Linked DNA regions of Homo sapiens: region 2 is linked to region 1. A link means that fine-mapping ties the variant in region 1 to the plasma level of a protein whose gene starts in the linked region. Region 1 holds a variant in brackets. A gene starts in the other region. All regions are shown on their forward strands.

Region 1 (15,483 bases):
CTGAAATGAACTCAGTTCAGTATATTAGCTCAGGGTTCAAGTGCAGTGTTGTACTAGCCTCACTGCACTTGGAAAGTAATACTATTCACATCTTGTTTTAACCATTATGTGGGGATGTGTGATGTTATCATTTTCACATGCACATTTGAAGTTGAGTAGTGGAAAGTCAGATAAAAAAGCGTTTAATATCATCACATCAGCCTGTTTTAGGAGAAGAGCCTTGTGCATGAATGCAGGAGGGGATCTAGTTGTCAGGTGTAATCTCATGTCTGGATGTTCCCTTTGCAGATGATTCAGTCCCTCAAGGCGTTGATTGAAAATGCAGATGCTGTATATGAAAAGATCGTACATTGTCAGAAGGCAGGTAAGTGAAAGTTTGTTTCCTCTCTTTAAATGAAATTAATAGCATCATATACTTTGCCCCAAAACTATTTCATTTTTTGGATGCTATATCAAGAAAATCAAATAAGAAAATTATTTTTCTATGGCTAAAGAAAATACCAATTCAGTGGTTCTCAGCCTTGGGTAACAAACTCACCTGAGGGGACCATTCAAAATACATTAACATTGGTCTGAGGTATGGGGCTGGGAATTAATAACTATTTTAAATTCCCAGGTGTTTCTAATGTACAGCCAAAATTGAGAAACTCTGCACTAATCTCTTCTTCAGTGTTAACTGTGTTGCCAAAGCTCCTGCTGGTCACCCGTGACTCTGGTACACAGTAGGATAGGTAAGGCTTGAGTAGAGGGAGAATGGCTTCTTGTAAAGGAGATGGATTCCAGTTACAACCTCCTGACACTTTTTAGTACACTGGCATTTTCGCGTGCTGATAAATTCATTAATTTAACATCCAAATGTTATACCAGACTATAAAATTCTTCTTATATAAACAATCATCCCATTAATTTTAGCTGTGGTAAAACCAAAAAATTCAGTATTCTGCATTGTAATAAAAATACACAAAATGGAGTTCTTTTAATTTTCTGATTTTTTGAGTGTTGATTTGGGAGATTCTATTATGGAGAATATTTTCAAGTCATAAAAAAAAAAAATTGTCCTGACTTTCTAAGGTTTTTTTCGTTGCTGTTCTTTAAAACCAAGAAACTATATTGCCTACCCTGAAAAAAAAAATCCCTTATCTCAGAAATGAACTTGTTTAAAATAGATTGAAGATAAGGATATGTGTGACATTTTTTTTCTAATATCTATTGAAAGAGTATTCATATTAGTGACTAATCAACAAACTCCACAATCCCCATCTTGTTTTACTCATCTTGTCAGCAAATATTGTTAGCAAAGTGGTCTTTCTACTTCTAGTCCTTTGCAGGCTAACTCTCCCTACAATCTACATTTAATTATTCAAACACAATTTTTATCTACAACACAATCTACAAATTATTAACACAATCTGCAAATTATTGAACAGGAGATATGGAAGTAAACACAGTAAATATATTGAATACTTACCGTGTGTTACTCAGGAGTCTCAAGTTGGTGTGTGAGGCACTGGGGAGACATTGGTGTTTGTGTAGAACAGGAGAGGGACTGAGCTTTCAGGTACTGACCATAATAGCTGTGTGCAGAGAATGTCCATGGGCAGACCTGATGGGAGGCAGTTGGCAATAGATAAGGAAGGTGCTTCTGGAGAGTGAGGGAGGAAGGGAAGGGATGGTGAGCCATCTACCCTCTGCTTTGGGCTGCCTGTCCCCATTCCCTGTGTTTCTACTTAATCAGATTTGCACACATCACTCATCTGCTGAGACTTCTTTCTCTGCCCTCTCTGCCAATCTGTACTTTCTTCTTTTTCAATTATCTCAACAGTCTTCTGGGAGACCTTTCAAGATTCCAGGATTTATGTTACCTAAAGCATTCTATTCAGCCCTTTAAACCTTTAATTTGCTTCAGTTGGTAGGGCTTCTTCAGTTATTGTGTATTTTATTAATGCATTCCATCTTGTAAACAGGATAATAACCTCCTAAAGCACTAAGATTATATATCAAGCTGCTCTCTGTATCTTACCCATGACATCTGTTCTAACATTCTGCACAGAGTAGTTGCCCAAATATTAACTAAATATGATTTTATTTTAATTATTTGATTCCATTCAATGCATGTATTGCTATGAAAATTGTGGACTTTGTGGAATTTGAAAAAAACTGTTTATCAGAAAAAAAACTATTCAACAATTTGAGTTATTGTCAATTCACTGGTTTATGAGATTTGATAATTTTCAGTATAATGTGGCTTTCTGTTTATGTTTGATTTCAGTAAGGGATACATGTGCTTGTACTTAAAAAGCTGAAGAATCTTATCTATTAGGGATTTTGATTAGGATGGGGGGAGAATAACCACTGTGTAATGGTTCAAGTTGCTCTGGGTTTAAAGATCTTTAGAAGCGTGTAAAGATTATCTTTTGGTTTCACAGTTACTGATGAACGCCTACACAGCCCTTCTGTTATCCCAAGTACTTATTTTAGAGTCCCTTGATCTTTTGTTTCTCATGTTTACAATTATGGTAAGGACATATAGTCATTAGTCATATGAAGAATTGCTAATTTGTTTTGGGCTCAAAGACAGTTGCATAAGATCTTACTTTTGATAAGTAATTGTTATTCTGCTTGCCAACAGATATAGGTCACCAAAGTGCTGCAAGAGAGGATTATTTTAGATGTATTTCGAATTTTAAAGCACAAACATATATTTTTATTAGTTAAAACCTTGTTTAAATAACTGAGTGGAAATAAAGAGTCAGACATCCACCCCCAAACACATGTTAAAAAATGTCCCCAGTTCAGAAGGGTTCAGGCTCTTGGCTGTGTAATCTATTTTTTACATAGGAACATGCTATGCTGATGTTAGTACTGGGAAGAGGAAGCGTGGCAGGAGAGGAATGCTGAGAAGTGAAGACCTCCAACCAAGGTAGGCTAGGAACCTATGCATCCCAGCAGTGGAGGACCCAAAGGGACCATGGAAAGAGCAGTGGAAACAACTCGGAGATGCGCAGTTGGAGGCAGCCTGCCTGCATAGTCCTCTCTGTTAAGAAGAGAATGCAGTGACACAGAGAGTTGGGGTAAAAGAGAAATTTTAATAATAAAACCATGTTGCTAGGAGTATATAAACGACCCAGTGAAGAGGAAGACATTAATAGATGAGACAGAGATTCAGGATGAAGGATGTGAGGTCAGGAATGAAGTACAGTCATGAAACACTTGACCTCAGAAAGGGAGAAAGGCTCCTCGTCTGAGATAATACAGAAAGCCGTGACATTTAGAAAAATTCTGAAAAAGAGAGGAGTGTTTTCCATTGACGAGGTAAACAGGGAAGTAGTGTCATAGGAGAACACCAACTTTGGGGGTGAGGAAGTGAAAGCGGGGATTCAAGACAGGGGCAAGAGTATGGGGACTTTGCTCAGAGTCAGAGATCAGCAGTGCCAGTCAAAGGGACTGATTAAATATCAGATCCTGCAGGGGTGATATGGGATGCGTGAGTCTGGGCCGCCATGGGAGTGAGAAGTGATGTGGCCATGCAAGAATGGGTCTCTATAATTCATAAGCCCAGGCGAACACATGCATACATGTTCTCAAGTAGGAGATTGGTAAGGAACACCAGCAGGAGAGCTGAACAGGAGTCTGCAGAGGGAGAAACATCATAAAAGTTCATTTGTTAGAAATGTATAAAAGTTGGGAAAAGATTTGTCAAATTCTTTCAGGGCCAAAGTCTTTTCCACTTTCTAATATCAGGGCCAAAGTCTTTTCCGCTTTCTAATATCTATGTTTTTGTCTCTTTAAATGCCAAAACTGCAGCCCATTTTTGGATTATAATTTCCTTTCTAGTCACTGAATTGGTATGCTTAATAAAGGATAGGAAGACGATCAAGAAGGAAACCCAAATGCTTTCCCTCAGTGAGCTAGGTGTTTCTATCAGGTAATTTTAAATGGAAAATAAATTGTTCTCTGGAGGAGGAAAAAAACAAATCAATGACATCCTGTTAAAGATGGTGAATTAACAAATGCTTTTAATCTCTACTCTAAAACCTCATTAAAATGACAGTAGAGGGTTTTTCTTTAAGCCACAAATCCATAAGGACAAAGAAATCGGGAGCAACAAAATTCTAGAAACTGAGTAACAGCTGAACAAGTGATAATTGGCTTAGCTGCCCACTCAGGAACCTCAATCTGAAGCTGGTCTTGGGGGGCCTGACACAGCCTGACTCACAGGCCAACCACCAGCTCAGATCTAACCTGGTGACCAGGTACCTCTGGGAACTGGGTTAAAGCTAGTTATAAAAGACAGGAACTGTGTAGAAGCTGGATTAATTAACGCTTAGATCTCTGTGTCCTGACAGTGGGGAGGTTAAAAATAGCAAAATTCTCATTCTCCATATGGGGAATTTAATAGGTGATGCTTGAAAAACAGTTCTAAGTAAACAATATAAGCATGTTACTTGGAAATATGAACATAAATACTAAGGAAGGGAAACAATCAGCTAAAGGCATTGAATGTGACTGCTTCTGGGGAGGGAGAATTGTGGACAATTATTTGGTTCTTTACGTACATGCATAATTCTAGCAAAAATAAAAACTAAATTCGAAGAAAAAAGAAGGAAGGAATCAAGGGGCAAAAGCTGCCACAGGAACTGAGGATGTTCCCAAAGATGTGATCCCACACCCACAAGGCCTGGGAGAGTGTTAGGTTGCAGAGGCGCAAAGAGCCCGCATAGGACACCTGCTGGCTTCCCTGCTTTCATGGGCATGCCTCAGGCAGAGGTGATGCCTGCATGCCTGGGAGGATGAGAGCAGGAGAATCTGTTCTGTGCACTTTCAGAATGACTGTTAGGAGGGAGGATCAAACTAAATGAAAGATGACCCAGCCCTCTCCACACCTCTTTAAATGGAAGGTTCTTTGCTAAAAGCTCCAGCGTATTTTCATGCATGGCCAGGGTTGCATCTTCACTGAGTAAAGTGGGATCAAAGAAAATAACTTTCCAAATAATAAAAGCTTTAATTACCCTTCATTTTAATCAATTTAATGGGAAATTTTCAGTGGATCTTATCCATCCCTGCTTTCTTAAATTTGATTTGCCAAAAATAATTTGAACATTTGTTTTAAAGACCCAGGGTCATCTTGAGATGCTGCAGTTTAATGCAGTGATTTCTTGGAGGCTTTAAGTTTGGAGGCCCCTTAACCTGCACACACAGCAGCCTGCCTGCTGTGACTGTTCAGATCTGGACATGGTGTTAATAGTTAAATTCCATCTCCTTTCATTAAACTCTCACTTCCTACTGCTTTGTACTGTATTTCCAACTGTCTGTTTGTATACTGCTCTTTTTTTCTCTTACATTTGCTGCTTCCAGTCTGCTGAGCAGTTGATGTCTCCCCTGTGACCAAGCGATTTATCTTACATAAAAGAGGATGAGGCCCCGACACACTCCTGCATGGGGAAAACCAGCAGAATGTCAGGCCAGACCTACATGACCTGGATTTAATTGCTCAGAGACTTTTTTTTTTTTTTCAAACTCCTCAGATCTCAGTGTGCTCCTAGGAGCTGAGGTTATCAGATAAGTAAGCCATCACCACCTGTCACTTGGTTCATGCACATCATCTTGCCCAACATAGTAAAGAAAATCATCTGCGAGATTCATTCTGAAAGCACTTAACAAGTGTTCTGTTTGAAAATACAGTTGACCCTTGGACAACACAAGTTTGAACAGCATGGGTCCACATATATGTGAGTTTTTTCAATAAATATACTGAAACATTTTTTGGAGGTTGGCAACAATTTGAAAAAAGACAGATGAACCATGTAGCATGGAAATATCAAAAAATTTAAGAAAAAGGCCACAAATGCATAAAATATATGTAGGTACTAGTCTATTTTATCATTTACTGCCATAAAATATGCACAAATCTGTTATAAAAGGTTAAAATTTATCAAAACTTATGCACACACTTAAAGCCCATACATGACGTCTTTCACAGTTAAGAAAAATGTAAACAATGTAAGATGCACTATTAACTCATAACTGCTAAAATTAACTCCAAAACATACTTTGCTACTGTAATAATTTCATAGCCACCTCCTGTTGCTGTTGTGCTGAGCTCAAGTGTTGGGAGTATCTGCTTAAAACGCTGTGTGATGCTAATCATCTCTGACTGAGCAGTTTATCATTCCAGTAAGTTGCATTCACAGTAAAAAGTGATCTCTCACAGTTACGGCATATTATTCATCATGTTTAGTGCAATACCATAAACCTTAAGTAACACCATGGGACCTATATGAAGTGCCACTGGTGATACTGTAAGTGCTCCCAAGAAGCAGAGAAGAGTCATGACATTACAAGAAAGAGTTGAATTGCTTAGTATATACCATAGATTGAGGTCTGCAGTTGACTGCTATTTCAGGATAAAGAAATCCAGCATAAGGACTGTTCTAAAAAAAAAGAAAAGAAAATTCATGAAGCTATTTTTGCAGCCATACCAGCAGGTACGAAAACCTTGCACTTCTTGTGCAAAGTTTTTTTTTATCTCACATTGAAAATACAGCTTTTAGGTGGGTACAGGATTGCTATACAAAAGGCACACCTATAGACTAATATGATTTAAAAAAAAGTGAAGTCATTATATGACAATTTAAAGTAAAGGATCCAAAGCTAGAGAATTTAATGCCAGCAAAGGATGGTTTGATAATTTTAGAAAGAGGTTTGGCTTAAAAA[A/G]TGTCAAGGTAATAGGCGAAGCAGCTTCTGTCAACCAGCAGGCAGCAGACAAGTTCCCAGATGCCATTAAGAAAATCATTGAGTCAAATTATCCTTGTTTGCAGATAATATGATCTTATGTTTGGAAAAGCCTAAAGACTCCACCAAAAATCTGTTAGAACTGATAAACAAATGCAGTAAAGCTGTAGGATACAAAATCAGCATGCAAAAATCAGTAGCATTTCTATATGCCAACAGTGAACAATTTGAAAAGGAAATTTAAAAAGTAATCCCACTTAAAATAGCCCCAAATAAAATTAAATACCTAGGAATTAACTTAAAGAAGTGAAACATCTCTATTAATGAAAACTATAAAACACTAATGAAAGAAATTAAAGAGGGCACACATAAAAAAATGGAAAGATATTTCATGTTCATGGATTGGAAGAATCAATATTGTTAAAATGTCCATACTACCCAAAGCAATATACAGATTCAATACAATCGCTATCAAAATTCCAGTGACATTCTTCATGGAAATTGAAAAAAAAAATCCTAACATTTATATGGAACCCCTAAAGACCCAGAATATTCAAAGCTATCTGGAGCAAAAAGAACAATACTGGAGGAATCATATTACCTGCCTTCAAATAATACTGCAGAATTATAGTAATCAAAATCGCATGATAATGGTATAAAAGCAGACACATAGACCAATGGAACAGAATAGAGAACCCAGAAAGAAATCCACACACCTACAATGAACTCATTTTGACAAGGGTGTCAAGATTATACAGTGGGGAAAACACAGTGTCTTCAGTAAATCGTGCAGGGAAAACGGGATATCCATATGCAGAAGAATGAAACTGGACCCCTATCTCTCTCCTTATACAGAAATCAAATCAAAATTTAAATCTGTGACATCAAACTGTGAAACTACTGCAAGAAAACATTGGGGAAACTTTCCAGGCATTGGATTAGGCAACGATTTCTTGAGTAATACCCTACAAGCACAGGCAACCAAAGCAAAAATGAACAAATGGGATCACATCAAGTTAAAAGGCTTCCACACAGTAAAGGAAACAAACAACAAAATGGAGAAATAACACACTGAATGGGACAAGGAATTAATAACCCGAGTATATAAGGAGCTCAAACAACTCTGTAGGAAAAAAAGTCTAATAATCCAATTTTAAAATGGGCAAAATGTTTAATAGGAATTTCTCAAAAGAAGACATACAAATGAAAAACAGGCATATGAAAAGGTGCTCAATATCATTGATCCTCAGACAAATGCAAATCAAAACTAAATGAGATATCATCTCACTGCAGTTAAAATGGCTTTTATCCAAAAGTCAGTCAATAACAAATTCTGGCGAGGCTGTGGAGAAAAGGGAACCCTCATACATTGTTGGTGGGAATGTAAATTAGTACAACCATTATGGAGAGCAGTTTGAAGGTTCCTCAAAAAAACTAAAAATAGAGCTACCATATGATCGAGCAATCCCACTGCTGCATGTATACCCAAAAGAAAGGAAATCAGTATATCAAAGAGATACCTGCACTCCCATGTTTTTTGCAGCATTGTTCACACTAGCCAAGATGTGGAAGCAACCTAAGCATCTACCAACAGTTGAATGGATATTGTGTGTGATACTTATACACAATGGAGTGCTATTCAGCCATGGAAAAGAATGAGATCCTATCATTTGCAACATGGATGGAACTGGAAGTCATTATGTTAAGTGGAATAAGCCAAGCACAGAAAGACAAACATCACATGTTCCCAATTATTTTTGGAATCTAAAAATCAAAACAATTGAACTTAATGGAGATAGAGAATGGAAAGATGGTTACCCGAGGCTGGGAAAGGCAATGGGAGGTCAGGGCGGGGGAGGTGGGGATGGTTAATGCGTACCAAAAAATAAAAGTTAGGAAGAACGAGTAAGACCTAGTATTTGATAGCGCAACAGGGGTGCTGTAGTCATTAATAATTTTATTGTACATTTTAAAACAATGAAGAGTATTATAGGATTGTTTGTAACACAAATGATAAATGCTTATTAAGTGGATAGATATTCCATTTTCCATTATTATGCATTACATGCCTGTATCAAAACATGTCACGTACCCCATAAGTATATATACCTGCTATGCACCTATAAAAATTTAAAATAAAAATAAAATTTAAAAAAACCATTGAGGAGAAAGGATATCTGCCTGAACAGGTGTTTAATGAAGCTGAAAGTACCCTGTTCTGGGGGGAAAAAAAAGTCACAGTGGAGAATTGTTAGTAAGGAAGAGAAGCAAACAGCAGGATTTAGGGCAGGAAAGGATAGGCTAACTCTACTGTTTTGTGCAGATGCAGTCAGGTTTATGGTCAGGACTGCCCCCATCTATAAAGCTGCTAATGCCCAAGCCTTAAAGGGGAAAGATAAACACCAGCTGCCAGTCTTTTGGTTGTACAACATGGAGGCCTGAACAACAAGAGCTTCTTCTATATTAGTTTCATGATGCTTTGTTCCTGAAGTCAGGAAGTACCTTGCCAGTAAGGGAATGCCTTTTAATTTTCTTTTGATATTGGACAATGCCCTTGGTCACCCAGAACCCCATGAGTTCAACACTGAAAGCCATGAAATGGTCTCTTTTCCCCCAAGCACAATGTCTCCAAGTCAGCATGTAGATTAAAGGGTCATAAGTACCTTTAAGGCTCATTACAGAGGATGCTATATGGAAAGGATTATTAATGCTGTGGAAGAGAACCCCCAATAGAGAGGACATCATACATGTTTAGAAGGATTCAAAATCCTGTTGAAGATACCATTGTTGCTACAGAAAAATCCATGAAAGTCATCGAGTCCAAAACAATAAATTCCTGCTGGAGAAAACCGTCCAGATGTTCACACGATTTATAACAGAGCTGCTGAAAGAAATCATGAAATAGATTGTGAATATGGCAAAAAAAAAAAAAAAAATTGGGGGGGGGTGAAGGTCTCAGGTTATGGATTTTGGAGAAAATCAAGAGCTCATGGACACCACACCAGAGGAATTAACAGAAGATAACTTGACGGAGATGAGTGCTTCCAAACCAGTGCCAGACAATGAAGAATATGTAGAAGAAGCAGTGCCCCCAAACAAATTGATATCAGACAATCTGGAAGAAGGGTTCCTATTATTCAAGACTGCTTATGACTTCTTTTATGACAAAGATCCTCCTGATGATACTGGCACTGAAACTAAAGCAAAAAGTGGAAGAAGTACTGGTACTGTATGGAAGCATTTTTAGAGAAGTGAAAAAGCAAAAAAGACAGAAATTGCAATGCATTGCTGTAAAGTTACACTGAGTGTGCCTGCCTCCCCTGCCTTTCCTTCTGCCTCCTCCACCTCTTCTGCCTCTGCCACCTCTGAGACAGCAAGACCAACCCCTTCTCTCCTTCCTTCTCCTTAGCCTACTCTGCTAGAAGATGATGAGGATGAAGACCTTTGTGATGATCCACTTCCACGTGATAAATAGTAAATACATTTTCTCTTCCTCGTGATTTTCTTAATGTTTTCTTTTCTTTATCTTACCTTATTGTAAGAATATAGTACATAATACATATCATATACAAAATATGTGTTAATCAACTGTTTATGTTACCAGTAAAGCATCCATCAGGTCCAAAGTAGGCTATTATTAGTAAACTTTTTGGGGAGTCAAAAGTTACATGCAGATTTTTGACTGCATGCAGAGTCAATGCCCCTAACACCCCTGTTGTTGAAGGGTCAATTATATTTGCAAATGGAAACCTGAGAGCCTTATAACTTTTTGTTTTGTATTAGTCTGTTCTCGTACTGCTATAAAGAAATAACTGAGACTGGGTAATTTAGAAAGAAATGGGCTCATGCTTAATTGGCTCATGGTTCCACAGGCTGTACAGGAAGCATGATGCTGGCATCTTCTCAGCTTCTGTGTAGGTCTCAGGAAACTTACAATCATGGCAGAAGGTGAAGGAGAAGCAGGCCCATCTTACATGGCTGGAGCAGGAGGGTTGGAGGAGGTGATGCGCTCTTTTAAACAACCAGATCTCATGAGAACTCAAAAGGGGGGATGGTGTTGAACCATTCATGAGAACTCTGCCCCATGATTCAGTCACCTCCCACCAGGCCCCACCTCTAGCACTGGGGGTTATGTTTCAACATTAGATTTGGGTGGAGACACAGATTCAAACCATTTATTCTGCCCTGGCCCCTCCCAGATCTCATGTCCTTCTCACATTTCAAAATACAATCATCCCTTCCCAATAATCCCCCAAAGTCTTAACTCATTCCAGCATTAACTCAAAAGTCCAAAGTTTGATCTGAACAAGGCAAGTCCCTTCCACCTATAAGCCTGTAAAATCAGAACAAGTTACTTACTTCCAAGTTACAATGGGGATATAGGGATTGAGTAAATAATCCCGTTTCGAAAGGGAGAAATCAGCCAAAAGAAAGGGACTACAGGGAGCAGTGTCCAGGGGCTGTACAGAGCAGCTGGGCCCTGGACCTGGTCCATGAAACCATTCTTCCTGCCTAGGCCTCAGGTCTGTGATAGGAGGGGCTGTCAGGAAGGTCTCTGAAATACTTTTCAGGCCTTTTCCCCATTGTCCTGACTATTAGTATTTGCCTTTTAGTTATAAAATTTCTGCAGCCTGCTTGAATTCCTCCTCTGAAAATGGGCTTTTCTTTTCTACCACATGGCCAGGCTGCAAATTTTTCCAACTTTTATGCTCTGTTTCCCTGTTAAATATAAATTCCAGTTTCAGGTCATTTCTCTTCCTGTGCATATGAGCATAGGTTGTTAGAAGCAGCCAGGCTACATCTTGAACACTTTGCTGCTTAGGAATTTCTTCTGCCAGATATCCTAAATCATCACTCTCAAGTTCAAGGTTCCACAGATCCCTAGAGCAGGGATACAGTGCAGCCAGGCTCTTTGCTAAAGCATAGCAAAAGTGACCTCTACTCCAGTTCCCAATAAGTTCCTCATTTCCATCTGAGACCTCCTGAGCCTGGACTTCATTGTCCATGTCACTATCAGTATTTTGGTCACAACAATTTAACAAGTCTCTAGGAAGTTCCAAACTTTCCCTCATCTTCCTGTCTTTTTCTGAGCTCTCCAAACTGTTCCAACTTTTGCCCATTACCAGTTCCAAAGCTGCTTTCACATCTTCAAGCAATGCCCTGCTTCTCAGTATCAGTTTCTGTTTTATGAGGCTTCAGGAAACTTACAGTCATGGTGGAAGGCAAAGCAGGAGCAGTCATCTTCACATGGCCCAAGCAGGAGAAAGAGAGTGGGGAGGTGCCATACATTTTTAAACAACCAGATCTCTTGAGAACTTACTATATACTACCAAGGGGGGATGGTGCTAAACCATTTATGAGAATGCTACCCCCATGATCCAATTACCTCCCACCAGGACCCACCTCCAGCACTGGGGATTATATTTCAACATGAGATTTGGATGGAGACACAGATCCAAATCGTATCAGTTCTCATTTATGTCAGAATGTTTCTCAGCTCTGTTTTACAGAAGTGAAAGGTTCTTTCCTGGGAATTGAGAGACCCATGTTCTGGTGCCCTCTGTACCATGTCCCTGCTGTGTGACTTTAGTTTAGTCACTTGACCCTCTCTGCCTCATTTTCCTTCTTCTAAGTGGCAGTGGATTATGTGATTCCCTGATGGCCCTATGCCTTCTAAATTACAGTGAACTAAGATCAGTTACATAAACAGCAATTTGGGAATGGCTGGATTACAGTTACTGAAAAAGATTAAAAGATTAAACAAGTCATCCCATACAATGTTACAGGACACATAAATTGTAGCCCATCATCATTACTTTCAAGGAGGAAAGTTAACACTTTGAAGATGAGACACAGGAAACCTGCATCAGACTCCCAGGCCCCATTTGAAATCCACAGCATCTTTTCTCTTAAAGACTGGATATTGAACCACCACATCTTCTTTTAGGCATTTACTAATTAATTAACTAATAATTAGTGAAGTCAAGGGAAGAAGAGAAGTAGCAAGGTCCTCAGTGGCCTCTTTCTCATTTTAATTCCCTCACTAAGGACCTTCATCACTGATAAGGGATGGCAGAGGAAATGACCACAAAGACAACAACTAGGCCAACTCATTCAGAGCAAAAACTTCAAAATAAGCAACTGGTCTCTAGAAACCGCTGTCTCACCACACCTCAACCGTCCCTGTAACCTTCACCCTAATTCTGCTCTAAGATTCCCACATCATATATTCACAGAGTCATGCAAAGAAAAGAAGGATTCCCACATCAACTTTCACACGAATGTTATTTTTCATACGTGTGATCAGAATCCCCTGGGAATGCTTGTTGAAAATGCAGTCTCTTTACATCATTCCCAAAATATTGACCATCTGGGAGTGAGACTCAGGAATTTGCATTGTGGTGAGCACATTCAGGTTTTGAGAACTTCTCTTTTGAGGGTAGAGCAGAGCAGGCCCTCTTCTGAGTTCATGCTCTTTCCCTAAGCCTCTCTCCTCTGTCTCTCACAGGGAGAGTGTGAGTGACTGCTCAGACTCAGGCATGCACCAGCTGTGTGATTGAATGACAGCAAAATTATCTTTCTAGAGCAGCATAGAACATAGCTTTCACCAGTGACATTTCCCCAGTGCCACAAATGAAGGGGAGGGAAGTTTTGGGGACACTTGCCCTTCCCGGGGTACCTGTTCTGTGATTAAATCCCAACACTGTGCTCTCTTGTCACATCTTCCTCCCTCCTTCCTTCGTAAACCCATGGAGTCTCTGAAAGCATCCCCTTGTATTTAAATAGCAACTCTCAGGGTCATCTCAGCAGATGTTCTGCTGAAGAGGGGTCACGAGTAACTCTCAGGCTGTTTTTAACTCTGGCACTTGCATAAATAAACCATTTGGTTATGAGAATTCCCATTATAATTTCTTATTAAAGCTGAGAAGAACTACAATTCAAGTAAAGTCCACAGACAAAATGAATCACCTTTCTCATACAAATACCAGAAGGTTATATATATACACACATGTATGTGTGTATATTAGGTATCCTTAGGTTTAATATAAAGTGATTTGGCCCAGATTATCTCTAAGGCTTTTCCAGCTCTCAAATTCTATGGTCTACAAATCCTATAGTATATTATAAATATATAAGGGATTGTAAAAGGGAATATACAAATAATTGAATAAAAGTGAACAAATGCATTCTAAGAATGTTTTAACAGTATTTGGAGATAAACTTTCTTATAATAATAAGGAATATAAAGCAACTTCAATTAACCCATGTTCTTTTAGTATAGGTCACTGTATTCTCATTATAGGTCAGTGCTGTGTCAATAACATATTAACATATTAAAGAAAAAACACAGTCATGCATTTGTGGAATTTGTTTCATGACAAGTTATTATACTAATTACTTATTGGAGATGCAAAAAAAGGATAATAATGTCTATACCATCATGGAAAGTTACAGTAAAACACAACCAAGTGAGTGGTATAGATAACAGGTATAAATGAAATTTGAAGAAAGGAGCAGTCTCAGAGGCTTTTGTTGTTAGGAAAGGAGGTGGAGCTTGAACTAGGGGCTTGAGGGAATGCAGGATTTGTATAAGTTAAGCAGAAGGAACAGGGCATTTTAGATGGGCCAAAGCTTAGCAGACTTTATCATCAAGGTGTACTTTCAGTGCACATGAAATATATTGTCCTGGGTGAAGGGAAATATTTGCTTCAGGAAACAGTAAAAATTAGGTTGGAAATACAGGCTGGGCCCAATTATGGAAGCCTTTTAACTCAAGTCTAAAACATTTGGGATTGATTTTTTTTAAGCCAACATTTACTAAAGCCTAATTCATGCAACACTAGTCATGTTCCTCGGGCAAAGGACTTCATCATCAAATTTTTATAATGCAACTTATCCCCTTTGGAGATTCTCAGTACACATTAGCATGCTAAATATCCTTCATTTTTAACTCAGCATTTCTCAAACTTATTTGGTGATAAAGCCCTTGTCTCAAGTTCTATCTGTCAGTGTCTTAAAGACTTCGGGAAACTGTTACAAGCAGTGAGGTCACTAGATAGTTTAGGACTCACTCGGGGACTCAGTGATTGGTTCTGTCTCCTCTGCCCTCCGTGTTCATATATTACTCCCAGAAAAAGAATGTGAATGCCTGAAGTATTAGTTTAGGAAGAAGTTGGTTGTGAAGGTCTGTTTCAGGTTTGACACATATGAGATCACAGTAGGATGCTCAAATGGAAATAGCTAGTAAGTTGTCAAAACAATTATAGTGAAGCTTCAGATAGAGATGAGGCCTACAGATAGAATTGGCTGTCATCCAAATAGAAGGGCCGCTTGAGTGGATGAGTTCTCTGTAATAATTGTTTCCTTGTAACACCCCATATAATTTACTTATGCCCATCACTTGTTGTCTGTGTTTCTCCTACTAGAGTGGAAACTCCTTGAGGGCAAGGGACCTTTGTTTGTTCATAACGTTTCCCAAATGCCAAGAACAGTGTTTGGTACAAAGCCAGCACTCAATAAATATCTGTTGAGCTGAATTGAATACAGAATGCCGCATATTTATTTGTTCAACAAACGAGCTCTTACTCTCCGTCTGACCAGGAGCTGGAGATTCCACAGAAAAACGGGATATGGACCCTCCCCTAAGAGGGCTCCAGGTCAAGTATTGGAGACAGGCATCTAAGCCACTCATAAGTGTAAGTGCAGCCTAGGTTGTAAGTGCAGGAGTGAGTGCGCACTGCCGTAGAGCCC
Region 2 (15,483 bases), not on the chromosome of region 1:
AATCTTGGCTCACTGCAACCTCTGCCTTCTGGGTTCAAGCGATTCTCCTGCCTCAGCCTTCCAAGTAGCTGGGACTACAGGTGCGTGCCACCACGCCTGGATAATTATTTGTATATAGTAGAGACAGGGTTTCACCATATTGGTCAGGCTGGTCTCAAATTCCTGACCTCAGGTGATCTACCCACCTCGGCCTCCCAAAGTGCTGGGATTGCAGGTATCAGCCACCACACCCAGCTGATTTTCTTTATATTTCAAGTCAGTCTTCTCTCTATCTGAGAGAACTTACCCCTTAACTAGTCCCCTGGCCAACTTCTATTCATCCTTTGTCTCAGCTTAGATGTCACCTCTTCCAGGAGGCCTTCCCTGACTTCTAAGTTTAAGGAAGGTTTCCTGTTAAGCGGACTCATGGCCCCTGGGGTCTTCCCTCATAACCCTCACGTGACCTGGCTGTACCTGCCTGCCCCACTGTGTTTCTGAAAGATCTGTGAGGGAAGGCATGGATGTGCCCTGTTTCCCTTTGTGTCCCAGTGACCACTGCAGATCCTGGAAAGGGTGAAGAGGGGAAAGGCCAGAGCCCACCCATCTGTGTCTTTTGACACTCCTTGTGCCGTGCCCCTTTCCAACTGATGGAAAAGCCCACCTTGTCCTTGTGGGGCGCTGAATTTCAAGGAATTTCCTGGTGGAAAGTATTTAACTCCCTCAAACGACTGTCAGAGACTGAAAGTGATCATCTGTGATGTGTTCGAGTCACTCCTGAGCTCCTCGAATCCTCCAATTGTTACAAAGTAATGGACTTGCTGCCCGATGTGAGTAGAAGCCAATATTATAGCACCACTTTTGCGAAAAGAAAAAGCTTTATTCCAAGTCACCTGGCAAGGAGACAGGAGACAACACTCAAATCTGCCTCCCTGATCCCTGGGTGGGTCAAGTTGTTATGGCACTGTTAACTAGTCCCAGGGATGCCAATGTGGCCGGTTGCCACGTTGGTGGTGCTAACTCTCAGGAGGTGGAAGTTTTCTCTGATTGCACCGGGCCAGGCTACATGACATGCAGTTTTGGCTCCGTGCCATCTGTAACAACTCAAGCAATGGTAAACTAGTTTGAGCTGGTCCTGTGGTTATGCAATCACCAGCACATCCCGGTCAAGACATTGTCCCCAGGCAGGCCAGAATCCCCAGGAAGCCTGGACTGGGTCACACCCTGCTTGTCGCCCAATCTCTCCAGAGGAGTGAGGAGGCAAGGGAGAATCTAGAAGCTCTGGAGTCTCAGTGTGTCTCCAGTTGGTTCCTGCCAGTGGGTTCATGGTCTCGCTGACTTCAATAATGAAGCCGCTGACCTTCGCAGTGAGTGCTACAGCTCTTAAAGATGGCACGGACCCAAAGAGTGAGTGGTAGCAAGGTTTACTGTGAAGAGCAAAAGGACAAAGCTTCCATAGCATGGAAGGGGACCCAAGCAGGTTGCCGCCGCTGGCTGGGGGTGGGCAGCATTTAGTCTCTTATTGGCCCCACCCATGTTCCATTTCTGTCCTATCAGAGTGCTCTTTTTTTCAATCCTCCCCACGATTGGCTACTTTTAGAATCCTGCCAATTGGTGTGTTTTACAGATTGCTGATTGGTGCATTTTACAGAGTGCTGATTGGTGCATTTTACAATCCTCTTGCTAGCTACAGAGCACTGATTGGTACGTTGTTACAGAGCGCTGATTGTGGCATTTTATAATCCACTTGCTAGCTACAGAGTGCTGATTAGTGCATTTTTACAGAGTGCTGATTGGTGCATTTTACAATCCCCTTGCTAGCTGCAGAGCGCTGATTGGTGCATTTTGCAATCCTAGCTACAGAGTGCTGATTGGTGCGTTTTACATTCCTCTTGCTGGACAGAAAAGTTCTCCAAGTCCCCACTCGACCCAGGAAGTCCAGCTGGCTTTACCTCTCAATCCCCGCTCTAAACAGGACACCCCAACTGCTGTTGAGAATTGGGTAATGACTGCTCTAGCTACTTCCTGCTGGATAGGGACAAAGAAGGGGCCCTGCAGTGGTAGTGTCCTCCAGAGGGGAACTCTCTGGGCCAAAGGGCCAGTGGGTCGATCCAGGGGTCCTCGGTAGAAGTTGTTAGTTGAGCTCATTTGGGGTTCCATTTTTAAAACCATCTATAGCTTGATGGCCTCAATCCTGGAGGAAACAAATTTGACAAGGAGGTCAAAAATACAGGGCCCGAAGGCAAATAATAGCAAGATGGCTGTCACGGGACCTAGAAAAGGGAGAAGCATGTCGCCCAACTCCAGAAGTGGGTATAAGAGTTTGAAAGGCATTGTCTGATTTCAGAAGCCTTTTCCTGTAAACACCGGGTGGTGTCTCATACTATCCCTGACAGGTTACTGTAAAAACAACACTCTTCCCCTAAGAAGGTACAGAGTCCTCCTTTCTCAGCAGTGAGGAGGTCTAGGCCTCAGTGGTTTTGGAGAGTCACTGCTGCCAAAGAGTCTATTTGGGACTGTAGAGTAAGGATAGATTTTGTTATTTCTTGCAAACTATCTTAGAGAGTGTGTGGTAGTAGGATAATGAAGTAGATACACTGGCTATTCTGGTTCCTGTAACAGTGGCCATTCCTAACCCTATAAGTAGGGGTATTAGTTGTATTGCTCTGCACTGACAGACTTGAGCTTTGAGGTGCACTGATAGGGTCTGATTTCCTGGGGCAATGTCAATGTTGGGACTTAGGAAGACTAAGGTGCAGGTGCCTGTCCAGTTGGTGGGGAGGCAGATATAGGTTGAAGTTCCACATAAGAAGAATATGCCTTGGCTGGGTACACAGAACTGGTTGTGTATGTTAAAAAGGTGTGTGAGTTTGTTGTTTTCATTTTCCCATACTCCTAGAGTACTTGCCAAGGTAGCTCCAGTGAGCGGCTGGAAAGGAGTGTTGGGAGCAAACTGAGTGGCTCCCTGTGTTCTATTTTACCATTGGAGAAAAAATCGTTTTGTATCTACTAGGAACCATTCAAGAGAGTGATTGAAATAGGGGATGAGAAGGCATTCACTAGTGGTGGGGGCGCTGCTGCAGGGGGTCCAGGGGTGAATGGTCATGCAGGGAGTATGTTTGCCATTATTAAACCTAGACTGTTTGTTAAGCAGGAAGGAGGTGATGATTTTTGGAGGCTCTGAGAAGCGGACAAGCCATCTGAATGGAGCTGTTTGGGTGAGTCGGAAGTTACTGTGATCAGTTGGGGCTTGAAGTTGTAGGGTGTAATTACACTGATGGGATAGTAGGTGCCCCAGGGGCAGTCCTGATAACAGGTTGCATTGGATGCATAAAGGGGCTTGGAAAGTTAAGACAGTATTCGTGGTTGCAGGGCCATGTATGGTTTTTTCATTGCTTGTGTAATAGGTTAGGTTGGAAATGTAAGAGTGTAAAAGCTGGATTGCGAAGCTTTGGGGAAGCCCAAATCTAGGAATTATTTCATGAATTAGGACTTTAACCACTTCCTGATCCTTCTCTGTCTTGCAAGGGAAGGCTTCTATCCAATTTGTAAAGGTTTCAACACAGACTAACAAGTATTGAAATCCCCTTGACTTAGGCATATGAGAGACGTCTAACTGCCAGTCCTCTCTGGGATGGTGCCCTATTCTTTGTTGTCCCAGAGGGGCCTTACGATGGGCCAAGGGATTATGCCTTTGGCACACATCACAGGCTTTGACTACTTGTCGGATGGTCCGGAGGAGATTTGGCCCTGTAAATAGGGATTTGGCCATTTGATGAGTGTTCTCAATACCCATATGAAAACTTTGGTGGAGGGTCTTAAGTATTTTCCACTGGCTGCCCTCTTCTGTCGTTAACCATCCCGAGGGGAGAAAACTATGCCCCCATGAAAGTCCCCATTCTGTTTCAGTCAGGGAATACTGGGGCTTAATCTCTTGGAGAGGGTTGTTCCATACCAAGGGTCCTTCTCTAGGTATTTCTAATGGGAGTTTCCACCTGGCAGCAATTTTGACCTCAGCGTCTGCCTGACGGTTTCCTTCTGCCTTTTCTCCTTCACCTTTTTGATGGCTTCAGCAGTGTAAGACTGCCACTTCCTTGGGGTCTTGCACTGCATGCGATAACTCCATGATTTTCTTGTGGTATTTAATGGGAGCTCCCCCAGAGGTTAGGAACTCCCTTTCTTTCCATATTGCAGCATGGGCATGTAGGATTAGATAAGCACACTTGCTATCTGTGTACACATTTATTCTTTTTTTCCTTTCCCAGTTCTAAGGCTTGGGTAAGTGCCACTAGTTCTGGTAACTGGGCGCTGGTCCCTAGGGGAAAAGGCTTACTTTCAAGTACTGTTACATCAGTAACTATGGCATAACCTGCCCTTTGTATCCCATTCTCCGCAAATGAACTTCCATCAGCATATAGGTTAAGGTCAGGATTAGCTAAGGGGACTTCCAAGAGATCCTCTTGGGTGGCATAAGTCTGGGCTGCAATTTGTTGGCAGTCATGCTCAATTGGTTCCCCATCCTCTGGGAGAAAAGTAGCAGGGCTGAGGGCCGCACAGGTGCATATTTGAAGCACCGGTCCCTCAAGGAGTAGCACCTGGTATCTAAGCAGATGGTTGTCTGATAGCCATAAATTTCTTTTGGCACCTAGTATGCCATTTACATCATGAGTAGTCCAGATGGTGAAATCCTTTCCTTGTATTATTTTGATAGCCTCTGATACTAACATGGCCACCACCGCAACTACCCATAAACAGTGAGGCCAGCCTTTAGCTACTACATCAATTTCCTTACTTAGGTATGCCACTGGTTGTGGGGTTATTCCTCGAGTCTGAGTAAGGACTCCAAGAGCTATTCCCACTCTCTCTGTGATGTGTAAAGAGAAGTTTTGTCCTCTGGGAAGGCTTAAGGCTGGAGCTTGTACTAGGGCCTGCTTTAAGGTTTTGAAGGCTGTTTCTGCCTCTGGTTCCCATTCTACTAGATGGCCCTCTGGGTCTCCTTGATTAGAGTATAGAGAGGCTTGGCCATCTCGCTGTATCTGGGGATCCATAGTTGGCAAAAGCCAGTGATCCCAAGGAACCCCTGCAACTGTTTTAATGTCTTAGGGTGAGGATAAGCCAGTATAGGCTGTATTCATTCTTTGCTGAGGGCCCTGGTTCCTCTGGCTAAGATTAGGCCTAGATATTTGACTTGTTGTAGGCAGAGCTGGGCCTTCAATTTAGATGCCTTGTACCCTTGATTAGCTAGAAAGTTCAAGATATCTAGAGTAGCCTGCTGGCATGAGGCTTCCAAACTGGTAGCCAAAAGTAAATCATCCACATACTGAAGGACCAGAGTCCCTGAACTTGAGAAGTGGCCGAGATCTTGGGCCAGTGCCTGACCAAACAGATGAGAGCTATCCCTAAACCTTGAGGCAAGACCGTCCATGTAAGTTGGGATGTGTGGTCTGTGGGATCCTCAAAGGCAAAGAGAAACTGGGAGTCAGAGTGCAGGGGAATGCAGAAGAAGCCATCCTTGAGGTCCAGAACAGTGAACAATTCTGCTTCCTCTGGTATTTGAGAGTAGGGTGTAGGGGTTGGGTACAGCTGGATATAGAGGAATTACTGCCTCATTGATGAGTCTAAGATCTTGCATCAGGACTCTCTGAGTGCCAGAGCTTCTGCCACCTGGATGTTTTCCTGGGCCTCCCCTTCTCCCCACCCCTGGTTCTCACCTGGACCTGTCTGACCTGTTTCCAGGTGCTTATACATTGCCACGACCACCATCAGATCAATGAAGGAGAAATCCCATCCACATGGCTGGGGCCCTCTTTCTAGAGTGTCAGGGGTAGGTAACCACCAGGGCAACAGCAGTGGTGGCCTGGGGAGAGGTGGAGGAAAGGAGTCATTAGTTTATTGCCAGAGATGCTGATCAATAAGACATTGACCTTCTTTTTTTTACTTATTTATTTTTTTTATTTTTGGAGAAGGAATCTTGCTCTGTCGCCCAGGCTGGAGTGCAAAGGTGGGATCTTGGCTCACTGCAACCTCTGCCTCCTAGGTTCAAGCGATTCTTCTGCTTCAGCCTCCAAAGTAGCTGGGACTACAGGTGTGTGCCACCTTGCCCAGCTAATTTTTTATTTTTAGTAGAGATGGGGTTTCACCATGTTGGCCAGGCTGGTCTTGAACACCTGACCTCAGGTGATCTGCCCCCTTGGCCTCCCAAGTGTTGGTATTACAGGCGTAAGCCACTGCTCCTGGCCTGACATGGACCTTCTTCTCATGAGGTTCACTGTCCACATGATATCCCTGTGAGCCTTTGGATGCATTTTCTCATTGTCATCCCTGTCACAGCTCAAAGATGAGCTCGTGCTCATAGTGTTACCAAAACACCATGGGTGCAGTCTAGGTCCTGCTGCTCCCCACACAGAAAGCCAATCACTGAGACACCAAGTATTGCCAAGGAAGACTTTAATCGAGTGCTGCAACCAAGCAGATGGGAGCTCAGTCTGAAATCCATCTCCCTGATTGACTAAAACCAGGAGTTTATACAGCAGAGAAGAAATGTAACAATGTATAAGAAAACAGGAACTGGCAGGACGCGGTGGCTCACGCCTGTAATCCCAGCACTTTGGGAGGCGGAGGTGGGCGGATCACGAGGTCAGGAGATCGAGACCATCCTGGCTAACGCGGTGAAACCCTATCTCTACTAAAAATACAAAAAATTAGCTGGGAGTAGTGGCGGGCGCCTGTAATCTCAGCTACTTGGGAGGCTGAGCTAGGAGAATGGCGTGAACCCGAGAGGCGGAGCTTGCAGTGAGCTGATATTGCGCCACTGCACTCCAGCCTGGGCAACAGAGCGAGACTCCGTCTCAAAAAAAAAATTATAAAATATAAAAGAAAACAGGAACTAGACAGGGGCAATGAAGCAATCATGGTGAATGAGGGGGTCTGGTATCTGGTACAGTAATCTGGTGGGTTTCAGTTCTTTGACACTTTTTTTTTTTTTGAGAGGCCCAATGGTCATTCCTTGCAGAAGGAACCCAGATAAAGCAAATATAAGTTTCAAGCTTTAAGACCAGAAGGGTCAATTTCCATGTTTGTCCAAAGAACAGTGTATGGGAGCATTGGGCTGGTTTCCATCTGAGCCTCATTTTCCAGATGGGAATGCAAAGGCACAGAGAGATTCAGAAATTTACCCGGGCCGGGCACAATGGCTCATGCCTGTAATCCCAGCACTTTGGGAGGCCAACCGGGGTGGATCACCTGCGGTCAGGAGTTCCAGACCAGCCTGGCCAGCATGGTGAAACCCCATCTCTACTAAAACTACAAAAATCAGCCATGCTTGGTGGCGTGTGCCTGTAATCCCAGCTACTTGGGAGGCTGAGGAAGGGGAATCACTTGATCCTGGAGACAGAAGTTGCAGTGAGTCGAGACCATGCCATTGCACTCCAGCCTGGGTGACAAGAGCGAGACCCCATCTCAAAAAAAAAAAAAGAAACTTACCCAAAGCCACGCACTTAGTAACTAAGCCAGCAGGCAGCCTCACTCCAGACACCCTTCTTCTTCTTCTTCTTCTTCTTTTTGTAAATTGTGGTATAGTTGGTGTATAGAATAGCATACAATGATGAAAAGAAAGAACTATACATTTGGCATATATCAACACAAATGACACTGTCAGGTGTGATGCCGCAAGATGTGGAAGTATAGATACAAGATGATGGTGTCGATATAAAGCTTAGAAATGAGCATGAACAGGCCCGGTGTGGTGGCTCACGCCTGTAATCCTAGCACTTTGGGAGGCCAAGGCAGGAGGATCATCTGAGGTCAGGAGTTTGAGACCAGCCTGGCCAAGATGGTGGAACCCCGTCTCTACTAAAAATACAAAAATTAGCTGGGCATGGCAGTGCACCCCTATAATCCCAGCTACTCAGGAGGCTGAGGTGGGAGAGTCGCTTGAACCCTGGAGGTAGAGGTTGCAGTGAGACAAGATCACACCACTGCAGTCCAGCTTGGGAAACAGAGCAAGACTCTGTCTGGAAAAAAAAAAAAAAAGAAAAAAAGAAATGTGCATGAACAATGCTATATATTGCTTAAGGACATACACACATATGAGTTAGTGAGCTGTGAAGAAATGCGTGGGACTAATGGCTGCCAAATTCTGTTCCTCTAGTGCATAGAGGCTGTGATTAGGGGAGGAAAGCGGGGCTCAGTGACGTGGTAATACATCTGTTAACCTGGTGGTGGGTACAGTAGTGTGGTTAGCAACGCTGATGCCCTACCCAGGCCCCACTCCTTTTGGTTGATTTTACTTTCAATCACTCTCCTGTGCCCCTCCAAGGAATCTGGCTGAAGCTGCCCCCCGGGGACGTCACCTGAGGTCACACCCTTGCTGGGTTTCCACTCCTTCTCTGTCTTCACTCCCCAACTTTCCCTCCACTTCCCCAAGGAGCACATCCTTAATGAACTCAACCTGAGACAGTGGAGAGAGCCCAGTCACCCATAAGCTGAGAGAGCAGAGCCCAGGCAAGGCAGAAAGGAAGGGGGACCCTATTGTTAGCCAAGTGTGGTTCAGGCGAAAGCCCCACAGTGCAGAGGGACAGCCACAGCTCAGAGGGCAGCTGAGGTGCTGGTTCTTCCCTGCAAAGGGCTCTCTAGGGACTCCTGCTTCCCAGGTCTGGGGCTTGCTCAGAAGTGGCCACAGCCCTTCCCAATACCCTCAGCCTCCCCTGGGGAGAGCCATGACCCAGGTGGCATTGTGCGACGTGTCAAATCTCCAAATGCTGTTGAGTCGTGACCCCATTCCCTGCTGGCTTTTGCAGTGGCTGAGATTCCCAAGGCCTTTCAAAGAGGCCAGATCCACCAGGCTCCTTGGAAAGGGTGTGAGGCTTCTTCCCAGGATGCTGGGTGCTTGTCACTGACCCTGGTGCTGAACAGATCTTCCTCGGGTGCCCAGAGGGTCGAGTTTGGCAGGACAATCCCCCCACCCCGACTGCAGGCAGGCTGCCAGACTAGGAGCAGAGGACTTCTGAGTTCTCAGTGACTTCTGTCACTACACCCTGAGGGGTGAACCTCAAATTTTCCCAATGTCATCAGGGGACCATAGACCTGCCTTTGAAGTAGCTTGGAAACAGGGACAGATGTTCCTTGGAAAGAGAGTCAGACTCTAGCAATGAATAAAAGGCACTCATTTACAAGGCTTGAGTGGAAGCTCAGAAGTCCTGGAGCCCAGGCATCAGAGAGACATTGAGACAAGTCCATTGGTAAGAGTGAGAGTAACAAGAAGGGTTTCTGCATTCTGCTTCAGGAACAACACCAGCCATTTATCCATTCACTCACTTAATCCAAAAACTATGTATTGAAGGCCTACCATGTGCCGAGATATATTCCATTAAAGAAAAGAAACAGAAACCTCTGTCCCATGCAACTTACATCCCAGTAGGATGGGGGTGGGGGTACAGGTGGGAGACAGATAGTAAACAGCAGACATAAGTAAGCGAATGGCCTAGCATGTCAGAGGATATAAGCATTTCAGCAAAAAAAAAAAAAAAAAAGAGCAGAGGAAGAGATGGGGATGGCATGCAATTTGACTTCACTGAAAGATGTAATCTAAACAAATACATATATATATTTATAATATATATAATATATATTATTATCTATAATATATATAATATATATTATTATCTATAATATATATAATATATATTATTATCTATAATATATATAATATATATTATTATCTATAATATATATAATATATATTATTATCTATAATATATATAATATATATTATTATCTATAATATATATAATATATATTATTATCTATAATATATATAATATATATTATTATCTATAATATATATAATATATATATTATAATATATATAACATATATTATATATAATATATATATTATAATATATATATTATATTATAATATATATTATAATATATATATTATATTATAATATATATTATATTATATATATTATATAATAATATATATATTATAATATATATATTATATTATATATATGTTATATATATTATAAATATATATTTTATATATATATAATATATATTTATAATATATATAATATATATTTATAATATATATAATATATATTTATAATATATATTATATATATTATAAATATATATAATATATATATATATATATTTTTTGAGATAGAGTCTTGCTCTGTTGCCCAGGCTGGAGTGTAGTGGTGTGATCTTGGCTCACTGCAACCTCTGCCTCCTGGGTTCAAGTGATTCTCCTGCCTCAGCCTCCCAAGTACCTGGGACTACAGGCACCTGCCACCACGCTCAGCTGATTTTTGTATTTTTAGTAGAGATGGGATTTCACCATGTTGGCCAGGCTGGTCTCGAACCCCTGACTTCAAGTGATCCACCTGCCTCGGCCTCCCAAAGTGCTGGGATTACAGGCGTGAGCCACCACGCCCGGCCTAAAAAAGTTTGAAAAAGGTGAAGGAGTGAGTCCTGCAGGTATCTGGGGACAACATTCCAGGCTGAAAGAACAGTCCGTGCAAACCTCCTCAGGAAGGAGCATGTCTGTCTGGTTGGTTTGAGGCATAGGGAGGAGGCCAGGGTGGCTGGGGCAGAGTGAACCAGGGAACCAGGAGATACAGGTGGGCAGAGAGCAGGGCACAGAACTCGCGGGGCCTCGTGGCTGCTGGAGGGTCTTGGACTTGTCCTCTGCGTGAGGTGGAGAGCCACGGGGACGTTCTGAACACGGGAGATTCATGGTCCCTCTGCTGCTGTGCTGAGAATACACTGTAGGGGGCAAGGATGGAGACAGGGAGAGCACCCAGAAGGCAGTTGTAGGAAGCCAGGGATTGATGCTGGTTTCTGGGTGTATTTGGAAAGCAGAGACATGAGCTCACCCAACAGATGGGAAGTTGGGGGCGAGAGGAAGAGGCGTCAGGGATAGCGCCCAGGTTTCTGGCCCTAGTAACCGGAAGGAAGGGGCTGGCAGAGAAGGAGGAGAGAGCAGGTGTAGGGGTGGGTGGGAATCAGAAATTCAGCTTCAGACTTGGGGGGTTGGAGCTGCCTATTTGGTATGGCGAGTAGGCAGCTGGACGTAGAAGGAGGCTGGAGTTTGCGAGAGAAACTTGGGAGTGGTTGGCATATAGATGATATTTAAAGTCAGAAACGTGTACTATTTGCCAGATATAAGCAGTAAGGCAGTTGATGCAAACCAAAGCCTTCTAATGTAATTATTGTTATTATTTTCATTTTGCAGCTGTAGAAACTGAGGCTCAGAGAGAAGTGACTTTGAGCTCACAGTGTCACCGCCTGCTGATGGGAGAGCTGAATTCAAAACCAGGTGACCTGACCTAGAGTCTTTGCTCCTAACCCCTCCACTGTGAGGTGACCCCCTCGCTGGATCTTTCAGGGCATGTGTTAGATGAGCGGTGGATGGACTTTGGATCAAGGGAAGATAATCCATACAAGAAGGGGACAGGAGTTTGGAAGCAGCAAACCAAGTCACAAAGTGAGGGGACGCACTGGCCCTCAAGAAAGCTCAATGTTGGGGAGCAGGGAGATGAGACTGAATAGGAAGGAGGGGCTAGATGGAAGGTACAGCTTCAAGATTGGCCTGAAAAGTTTTGACTGGATGGGGAAGGAAGCAGGGAGCCATTGACGGTTTTGGAGGAAGGGGGCATTACATGGTCAGGGCAGCCCTTGTGAAAGATCCACCACATGTGGGCATGCAGCTGATGAGGGAGGTGTCAGGAGAGACCAGAGAGGAAGAAATAGGCCCAGAAGTTTTTGAGACTCTCTGGGTGTGAAGGATGAGGGCTGAGCCAGTGGAGATGAGAAGGAAGCAAGGAAGCCAAGCTCCCACTGAAGACAGCGCTGGGCAGAGTCTCTGCCTGATGTAATGTGGGGGATGGAGGCGAGGAATGAGTCAAGGGCAAAGTTTCAGACTTGGGGGCAGATGGGGAGATGGGAAACAATGCTGGCTTGAACAGAAAAAAAGGAGGCTGGTGTGAGAGGGAACTCGGTTTTGCCCTTCTGGTACCTGGGGCTGAGTGAACCATAGCAGGACAGACTTCTGCTTCCCAGCAGCTCACAGGTTAGTGTGGGGGACAGAACTGCACAGAGCTGGCCAGGCTGCAAGGCAGAGAGAGCTGAGGGGTGCCACAGAAAGATGGGCCGGAAGGAGGAGTGTCCAGGTGGGTGTGTCTGATTAGTTACTGGTCAGGGCTGGAGACAGAGATTTAAGAAGTATTTATCAGGCCAGGTGCGGTGGCTCACGCCTGTAATCCCAGCACTTTGGGAGGCCGAGGCAGGTGGATCACGAGATCAGGAGATCGAGACCATCCTGGCTAACACGGTGAAACCCCGTCTCTACTAAAAATACAAAAAAAAAAAAAAATTAGCCGGGCATGGTGGCGGGCGCCTGTAGTCCCAGCTACTTGGGAGGCTGAGGCAGGAGAATGGCGTGAACCCGGGAGGTGGAGCTTGCAGTAAGCCGAGATAGCGCTGCTGCAGTCCAGCCTGGGCGAAAGAGCAAGACTCCGTCTCAAAAAAAAAAAAGAAGTCTTTATCCAGAGGTAAAAGATCTGGGGTAGATGATGTCAGGGAGGAAGGGAAGGTTGCTTGAGGCAAAAACAAAGTCTAGGACAGAAGCCCAGGCTTGCTCCTGCCACCAGCTAGCTCTGTGCCCATGAAGCAGATTTATTTTGTTGTTGTTGAAATGGAATCTTGCTCTTTTGCCCAGGCTGGAGCGCAGTGCCACAGTCATGGCTCAGTCGTGCACCACCATGATTGGCTAATTTTCATTTTATTTTTTTTGTAGAGACAGAGTCTCACTATGTTGCCCAGGCTGGTCTCAGACTCCTGGGCTCAAGCGATCTTCCCACCTCAGCCTCCCAAAGTGCTGGGATTACAGTGGACCAGTTGCTTAAACTACTCTGGTCAGTTCCTAATTTTCTCATCTGTAGAAACTAATAGTTCTTACTCCCTGAAGCTGTTGTGAGGACAAAGTAAACTAATAGACTTAACTGCTGAGATTCCCCTGCCCCAACACCCACCCCAGCCTATAGTGAGAGCTCAGGGACATTTCTGAGAAGAGGAGCTCACAGGGAGCTCAGGGAAGAACCATGTCCCAAATCCCAGTGGGAGGAGCATCAAGAAGGATGGTAGGTTCCCAGGGATGACAAGGCGATTCCCTGAGCCAGCTGGAGACTAGGAACTTTATAGACTTCATCTCAGTTAGTTTTCCAGGTCATACCATGAGGGAGTGTCTTATCATCACACCCATTTCACAGATGAGAAAACTGAAGTTCATAAAATCGCTGTTAGTCACACAACCAGGAACAAGTAGAAGAGTGACTGGGACTCAGGGCTGTAGGTAATGATTCCAGAGCCTCTGCTGGTAATCACTGCCCAATGTAAGGCAGTGGGAGGTTCAGGGAGTGGCTGGAGGGGATCAAGAGGCTCAGTGAGAGCACCTTTCCTAGAGCATCAGAGCTGGAAGCCACATTGCTGAGGATTAATTAAATCACAAGTGGGCAGAGAGGAAATGGTAGAGGGAAGTACAGACCACACATCGGAGCAGTTTGGTCATGAATGAAAGGAGAAATGGGAGGGCAGCATGCGAGGGTGTTGAAGTCAAGGGGAGGTCTTTATGGAAGTGGAGAGACAGGATCATGTTGTCAGCAGAGGGAAAGGGGGTCATGGGATTGGAGACAGTAAAGAGCTAGAAGATGGCAGTGCAACTGAGGGAAGGAGGCCCCTCTGGGATGAATAAAGGTTGAGATCCAAGCCACAGTTGAAGCAATATAGGTTTGGCAAAAAATGGCCACAACCACAAGGAAGTTGTAAACTAGATGGGGGAGGAGTCAGGGTGTCCTTGGTTAGATTCCTCTGCTTTATCCATGACAGAAGGATTCGGGTGTGTCTCATGAAATGATGGTACACACTGGTTTAAAAACTATTTGGATGAAGGAGGCCCTGGGATAGAATGTGAGTTGGGCCCATGTTGTAGTTCAGAATCTCTAAGTGACCATCCATCTATCCATGCATTCATGCATGTATATATCCATTCATCATCTATCAAGCCATGCACCCATACTTCTATTCATCCATCCAACCACACATCCATCTATCTAGCCATACATCTACACATACACCCACCCATCCATCAGTCCATCCATCTGCTCACCCATCCAGTTTCATGCATCCATCCATCATCCATCAACCCATTCATCCATCCTTCCATCCATCCATCATCCATCCATCCATCCATCCACCCATTCATTCATCCATTCATGTATCCATCCATTCATCCATCCGTCTGTCCATCCATTCATTCATTCATCTACCCATCCATCCATTTATTCTTTTACCATCCATCTACACATCCATCTACCCATCCGTTCATCCATTCATCTACCCATCCATCTATCTATTTATTCTCTCACCATCCGTCCACACATCCATCTACCATCCATCCATCTATCCATCCATTCTTCCATCCATCCCTCCATCCATCCATCTACCCATCCATCCATCTATTTATTCTTTTGCCATCCATCCACACATCCATCTACCATCCATCCATCTACCCATCCATTTATCCATTCATCTACCCATCCATCTATCCATCCATTCATCTACCCATCCATCTATCTATTTATCCTTTCACCATCCATCCACCAATCCATCTATCCATCATCCATACACACATCCACCCATCCATTTATCTACCATCCATCCATCCGTCCATTCTTTCATCCACCTTCCAGCCACTCATCCATTCATCACTCACCCACACGTCCATCCATCATCCATCCTCCATCCATCCATTCACTCATTTACCCATCCATATCCATTCACCCATTCATTCATTCACCCATCCATACAACCACTCACCTATTTATACATTCAGTAAACATATATATATTTTTTGAGACAGGGTCTCACTCTGTCGCCCAGGCTGGAGTGCAGTGGTACAATCATGGCTCACTGCAGCCTCAACTTTCCTGATGTAGGTGATCCTCCCTACTCGGCCTCCAGAGTAGCTGGGACAGGTGCACACTGTAACACCTGGCTATTTTTTTTTTTCGAGATGGAGTCTCACTATATTGCCCAGGAGGGAGTGCAGTGGTGTGATCTCGGCTCACTGCAATCTCCACCTCCCGGGTTCAAGCGATTCTCCTGCCTCAGCCTCCCGAGCAGCTGGGATTACAGGCACACGCCACCACACCCAGCTAATTTTTTTTTTTTGTATTTTTAGTAGAGACAGGGTTTCACCATGTTGGCCAGGATGGTCTCGATCTCCTGACCTTGTGATCCGCCTGCCTCAGCCTCCCAAAGTGCTGGGATTACAGATGTGAGCCACTGCGCCTGGTCATTTTTTTGCATTTTTTGTAGAGACAGGGTTTCACCATGTTGCCCAGGCTTGTCTTGAACTCCTGGGCTCAAGTGATCCACCTGCCTCTGCCTCCGAAAGTATTGGAATTACAGGTGTGAGCCACCAAACTGGCCTAATAAA

Which allele goes with the higher level. Positions count from the first base shown, and alleles are read on the strand shown. Strength reflects both the effect of a copy and how common the allele is.
As copies of A replace G in region 1, the plasma level of the protein whose gene starts at base 11,235 in region 2 goes up (moderate association).

What was found. PIP is the chance, under the fine-mapping model, that this variant and not a neighbour inherited with it causes the effect. Protein levels are from antibody-based Olink assays in UK Biobank. Linkage for the fine-mapping came from a reference panel and not from the study's own genotypes, which makes the PIPs less certain.
Region 2: CCL17 starts here. The variant in region 1 is fine-mapped to the plasma level of the CCL17 protein (UK Biobank, PIP above 0.99).

Annotation. Positions count from the first base shown.
Region 1 is chr3:17,042,586-17,058,068 of GRCh38, forward strand. It overlaps PLCL2 (phospholipase C like 2), which reads left to right. Exons shown (of 6, transcript NM_001144382.2): 4 at 289-364. PLCL2-AS1 (PLCL2 antisense RNA 1) reads right to left here and starts at 11,999. Exons shown (of 3, transcript NR_046640.1): 1 at 11,941-11,999; 2 at 1,469-1,603; 3 at 167-328. RefSeq lists an enhancer at 11,835-12,024. The variant A/G (reference allele first, on the strand shown) is at 6,715.
Region 2 is chr16:57,393,533-57,409,015 of GRCh38, forward strand. It overlaps CCL17 (C-C motif chemokine ligand 17), which reads left to right and starts at 11,235. Exons shown (of 4, transcript NM_002987.3): 1 at 11,235-11,304. RefSeq lists an enhancer at 6,888-6,937.